2 linked regions of the Homo sapiens genome follow. The protein of the gene in region 1 interacts with the protein of each later gene in a pairwise test. Each region holds a gene or a part of one and is shown in the gene's direction. Other genes may lie near its edges.

Region 1 (3,655 bases):
GCAAGTCACGTTGTTCTTCTAGATCTAATTTAACTCATCTGTAAAATAAGATGGTTGAATTCGACAATTTCATGGGTTTCATTAGATGCCAATATTTTATGACTCATGATCCCAGCAAGACTACACCTATTTATAAGGCTGTTTTGCTTGTTTTTACTAAGAGCAACAATAACTACATATTTTCAGTTTACTCAATCATCAAAAAAATTATAAAATCCATAAACACTTTGGATTTGAAACATTGCAACTTTGATAAAAAATGTATCCATGTAGGCCAGGAGCAGTGGCTCACGCCTGTAATCCCAGCACTTTGGGAGGCCGAGGCAGGTGGATCACGAGGTCAGGAGATCGAGACCATCCCGGCTAACACGGTGAAACCTCGTTTCTACTAAAAATACAAAAAATTAGCTGGGCGTGGTGGCAGGTGCCTGTAGTCCCAGCTACTCGGGAGGCTGAGGCAGGAGAATGGTGTGAACCCAGGAGGCGGAGGTTGCGGTGAGCCAAGATCGCGCCACTGCACTCCAGCCTGGGCGACAGAGCGAGACTCCATCTCAAAAAAAAAAAAAAAAATGTATTCATGTTTCCGCTGGTTATTCTACAACTTGGTGAATCCTTCCCATTTTAGAATGCCAAAGAATGAGATGCATTCTAATATCCAGTTGGATGTCAGTATCTTCAGACAGCATGTTTCAAAATCAACTTTCACTGTAGTTGTTTTTGCAAGAAAAGATGACCCTCTTGGAATTAGTAAAAATACACTGCTTTCTCTCCCCTGTATTCAACCAGAGCCAAGAATCTGATAAATGTGTTTATCACAGGTCCTTCAGATACCCTGCATTTGTAAACCTCTACAGTGTTTATGTTTCCTTTTGTACTGCTGAAGATACTGTGCTGGGTCCTGTTCTGCATTCTTGGGGAAAAACAGGGAGCTCACATTTTGTGATTAGTGAGCAAAGACAGACCATCCCCAGGACTGCTGCTCGAGCTGTCTCTGTTGCCCGCTCATCGTCTCTTTCTATTATACTTGCACTCTGAAGGACATTTGCCAGAGCCAGACTCCCTGGATCCCTGTTATTTGTGTCTTTTCTCACCTTCAACATGATCTGAACTAGTGTTTTCATTTGTTAAAAACAACAAGAACATTCACTGGGAAACTTTTGCTGGAATTGCTTCAGGTCATCATAGCTATTTATTCCCTGTCATAAACTATAATTCTCCATTTCCCTTACTCCCACATCAGGGGAGTTGGTGGTTTATGGTAGACAGTCAGTGGAATTTGATTGAACAGTGGAATATTTCAAAGAACTACTGAGATTATGTAGCAGGTTGTAATACTAAGAACAAAACATAAAATATTCTTGGTCTTGATTGCAGTTGGCAGTACAAGAAGAAATAGGCTTTTGAAACAACATAAAAGATTTATAATTTGTGGTTGCACCTAAGAAAGAATTTTCTTTGAGAGAAGAAAACAAGTCATGGGATTGGCTTAATAGGGGATTTTCTCTATATGATTAAAAATAATGGCTTAGTGTCTAATTGGTCTCAGTTAAAACAAAGTACAGAAGCTAAGGATTTTTCTTTTTTTTTTTTGCAGACTTCTGTTTTGGGGGCATGAAATTCAGATAATTGTGCTATCACAAGGGCTTGTATTACTTAGAAAGACCTGAAGTACGAGACAAAATGATTTGGAAAAATGAATAGGAATGGGAGGAATGCTTCCAAATATTAAATAGGAAGGAGAATGCAAGTGCAATGTAACTACTGAAAGGTATTTAATCCTAGGTGTTTGAATTCTAGTGCTGATCTTATTGCAAACTAATTTTGCTAATAGCTAGTGGTATAATCAGTGATGTTGGTTGGAATATTTTAGGCATTGGTAGATCTCAAAAATTATTATTAAATTTGCTCCATTTCCAAGATGCAGCTGATCTTACATTCTTACTGAGTGTCACAGAAGTGCCACCAAAGCTGGGCCCTGAGGTAAGGCACCACAAGTGTAAAATACCAAAGAGAAGGTGGACTGTACAAAACCATGAAGCAGAGAGAAAGGTATGGTAGCTTCTTGGCTGGAGGAATCTGGTTGAGATCATCTGACATTTTTTTCTACAGAAACAGTCTTCTAAGGACAAGAGGAGTTTCACGTTTTCCCTGAAAACAAACTCAGCAAGCATTTACTATATCTGGGTGCTTTAATTATCAAGAAGAAATGTGCAGTCTCTATTCTAAGCTTCAAGGGTATTCCTGGTAAGGAAGCATTGATGAAGAAGGATTCTCTTAGCAAAAGACTTAGAGGCCTCAGTTGTCAGGCCTCTGGATTTAAGCTACATTTTGACTCTGTACACAAATCTAGATCATTCCCTCAATTTGTAATAAAAACAATATTATAGCTGAGGTAGGTGTCATCATGACTTGTGCTAATAGTTTTGCTGAGTACATTGTGTGTTTATAATCAGAGAGAATCAGGAGAATTTGCATATTAGAAGAGAGAGCCAAAAGTACTTTCTAAATAGTGAATGGCCAAGCTCTCCTTGTTCTCCCCATCCTCACTCCAACACTTCATAATTTTCTTTGGGCTGAGCCTCTTTGGGGAAAAGCTATGGGGAATGTAAGTCAAGTTCATTAGATGGAGCATGTGACTTGGGTTTTGGCAGCATGGTGTTGCAAATCTCTGGGACCTACACAGGCTCTGCAGAGCTCAGGCCTTAGGGTGATAGTTTGATTGAGGTGTCAGCACAGCTGGTATTCCATTCAGTTTCACATATACATCACTCCTGACTGGGCTGGGTGGGGGCAGCAGGAGAGGAGCATACTACACTCTGACTGCTATGGACAACCTGGACAATTATCTCACCACGCTACCTTCAGGGGAACTCAGAGAAAACCAAGGAAGGATCTTGACAGGTAAAAATGGAGTTGTGATTCTTCAAAGGTCCCTAAGATCTCAGGGTCCTAGAACTCAAGTTTGAGTGAAACATTTTCAGGGATCTTTCTGAACTGTTTCCTGTTCTTGGGTTCTCAGGGAGTGAGCCCCAGGCTAATGTTAGCTTGGGTTGATGGCATTGTAGCACTAGTCCTGATCTAGGCTGAGGCCTCTGAAGCCTGCCTTTGCAACAGCATGGAGCCTTGAGTGAATGGTGTTAGAAATTACTTGCTGCTTCAAGGAGAGTTCATGGTAAAACAAATCCCTGTAATGTGGTTTGAACATAGTTTCCTCTCTATAACTCTATGTATTTGTTCATGTATATATGTTAGGAGAGAAGGAACCAGGAGATAATTGGTCTACTTGATTATTAAACTATATGAGTGAGCATAATATTGTCAAAGACAAATAAGGTACAAAACCATTTACTCTTCTTCCTTTATCTCTAGAGAAGTCCAAAGAACATGGGCAGGGGTAAGATTTTCCTTGACAAACAGGCATCAAGGATCATGCAAGTAATGTCTCTCTGACAGTTCAGATCTTGTCCCAGATTTAGAGGCAACAGCCAAGCATTAGAGTTGCTGGGATTCTTGACATATGAACTTGAGAGCGCTAATGGCCACATTTGCACATGCAAAGTGGCATTTGGCTATAGGACTTTGATAAAGATGTGAGCAAATGAAGCAAGATCTCACTATAGATATACCATAAAAAAGTCTTAACTGGGACTCCTAC
Region 2 (2,710 bases), on another chromosome or scaffold:
TCTTTGGGTCTAAGACATTAATGCTGTTTGGAAATCCTAGTGAAATGGCACTCGGAAACCTTTCTTGCTCTAGGACTGGAAATCTGGGGTTTATTACCAAAGTCATTCAAATTAATGAAATCATAGCAACTGTCCACCTTCATCTCCCTGGGAATTTGCTGTACGTAGAGTTAACAGTGTTTAGTTATTGGAATTTTTATCATAATAGACTTACACTTCTTAGCTTTGAAATCTTAGAGTTATTAAATCTGAGACTGGAGATTTCAAATAATATTATCATATTCCAAATGGATATCTTTCAGACCAAAATACAGGTGAAAATGGAAAAGCTGTCTTCAACTACCAAGGGAATTTGTGAACTAGAAAACTACCATTATGGGGAGGAGAGTAAACGACCCCCTCTGTTCCACACGTGGCCTACAACCCATTTCTGTAAGTAGTTCCTTCTCAGTTGATTTTCAGGAGGGTAAAGGTTATTAAGGGCATTTAGTATCGTTTACATCTGGTACTTTAAGAAGCTGACAAGGCTTTCAAATTCAATGCAAAAGTATCGGGAGGAAAGGAGACAGAGGCATCTTAAACATTTCTTCTTGGCTTTAATTACCTGGTTATCAGCAGAGTATATGAAACATAGAGACCCGTGAAGCAAGCTGCTGTTATTAGGCCTCTAAAACCAATGGGCAGAGTGAATTCCACCTCCTCTGTGGAAGCAGATATCTCTCATTTTGAGGGGGGGAAAGGAAGAAAGGAGTTTTTTTGGTTTGTTGAGGTTTTTCTTTTGTTTTTTGTTTTAATTAAAAAACAAATTGAGGGTCACTGCAGCCAACCTCATGGAAGATGACTGGGAAAAATGAAACCCATGGCTTCAGTAAACTCTATGAGGCGCTTCTTAAAGGGTTACTTTTAGCTTTTATTAGTTCAAGACAAGGGTAAGCTATTTGATGTTGACCTGAGACTTTTTAAATAAGGCAGGAAAGGGTAAAATCACCTAGTGGAATGTGTTTAGTGAAATATTGTCAGTTTGAGGGGAATCTCCTACTGATAATCACTGTAGGTCACCTAAGAGTCAAGTAGAAAAGGTTATATATACTTTTTTTGAGACAGAGTCTCGCTCTGTCACGCCTGCTGGAGTGTAGTGGTGCAATCTTGGCTCACTACAGCCTCCGCCTCCCAGGCACAAGCGATTCTCGTGCCTCAGCCTCCCAAGTAGCTGAGATTACAGGTGCGTGCCACCACACCTGGCTAGTTTTTGTATTTTTTAGTAGAGACAGGTTTTCGCCACGATGGCTAGGCTGTTCTCAAACTCCTGAACTCAGGTGATCCACCCACTTGGGCCTCCCAAAGTGCTGGGATTACAGGTGTGGGCCACCACGCCCGGCTTGTATACACTTTTTATTTCACTCTGCTGACCATGTTATCAAATTGTACTAATCTGCACCAGCTAGAGTAGTAAACTCCATCGGGCCCTTCTTCCCCTCAGTGCTGTTGCTGATTCTGGTTTTTAATCAAGAGCTGTTAAAATGTAGTTCTTCCCAAGTCGACACTATGTTCTTGAATCACTGCCATTAAGGGAGATTCACGTTTCTTTCAGATGAGGTTTCGCATAAGCTCTTGGAGATGTACAGGAAGGAGCTGCTCCTGAAGCGCACGGTGGCCAAGGAGCTTGCCCACACCGGGGATCCCGACCTCACCCTGAGCTACCTGTCCATGTGGCTGCACCAGCCCTATGTGGAGAGCGACAGCAGGCTGCATCTGGAGAGCATGCTGCTGGAGACAGGCCACCGAGCTCTCTGACGTCCTGAGACGGCTGCGGACACTGGCTCCTTCCACGTCTCACCAGGCAGACAGTCTGCCTAGGACCCAGTGCCGCAGGCCTGGATCAGACCCCAGGATCAGACCTTGGGGTCTTCTGGCCAGAGCTTGTCACCAGCCCCATGGCCTCTCCAGGCGTGCTCATGCCCACAACCCGCGGCCAGCCCCACGTGGTGCTGCTCAGCCTTCTCTGCCCCTCCTGGGAATCTGTCATTCGTGGGTGCTTCAGAGTAAAATCAATGAGTTTCTGAGCAGAATGAGTGAGTGATCTAGTTTCTATAAATTAGGCATGCTTTATACATTATGTTTGTGTAGAAAATCCCTGGTTTAATATTTTTACTTTATGCCTATCTGATTGTTGAAGTTTTTATGAGACTATATTAGTTTTTGGGCCAGGTGCGGTGGCTCATGCCTGTAATCCCAGCACTTTGGGAGGCCGAGGTGGGCGGATCACTTTAGGTTCGGAATTCAAGTCCAGCCTGACCAACATGATGAAACCCTGTCTCTACTAAAAATACAAAAATCAGCTGGCGTGGTGGCGCGTGCCTGCAATCTCAGCTACTTGAGAGGCTGAGGCAGGAGAATGGCTTGAACCGGGAGGCAGAGGCTGCTGTGAGCCATTGCACTCCAGCCTGGGCGACAGAGTGAGACTTCGTCTTAAATAATAAGATCCCATGGAGTTAAAATGAAGTTTGACATCATGAAAATGAAAATAACCTACAAAAAAATTGCCGCTGTTTGCATACTGGGGACATGGCAAGCGATGTAAACTGCCTTCCCTGGCATTCTTCTGACACAAATCCTCGAGTTTCACAATGTTTGCAGCCATTTCCAGAGTTAACATACTAGGTTAGAATGAGGGAAAGGTGACAGTTTTGAAACAGACCGAAGAGACTGG

Evidence for each region. Proteins that work in one complex are often made in the same cells at the same time.
Region 2: the proteins of PRRX1 (region 1) and CINP interact in binary tests that used the Homo sapiens proteins (3 or more experiments, as listed by UniProt).

What each region holds. Positions count from the first base shown.
Region 1 is NC_000001.11:170,716,031-170,719,685, forward strand, and holds part of PRRX1 (paired mesoderm homeobox protein 1), read left to right. Parts: intron 1-3,655. UniProt on the Homo sapiens protein: Master transcription factor of stromal fibroblasts for myofibroblastic lineage progression. Orchestrates the functional drift of fibroblasts into myofibroblastic phenotype via TGF-beta signaling by remodeling a super-enhancer landscape.
Region 2 is NC_000014.9:102,347,641-102,350,350, reverse strand, and holds the end of CINP (cyclin-dependent kinase 2-interacting protein), read left to right. Parts: intron 1-302; coding exon 303-432; intron 433-1,591; coding exon 1,592-1,794; 3' UTR 1,795-2,069; downstream 2,070-2,710. UniProt on the Homo sapiens protein: Component of the DNA replication complex, which interacts with two kinases, CDK2 and CDC7, thereby providing a functional and physical link between CDK2 and CDC7 during firing of the origins of replication.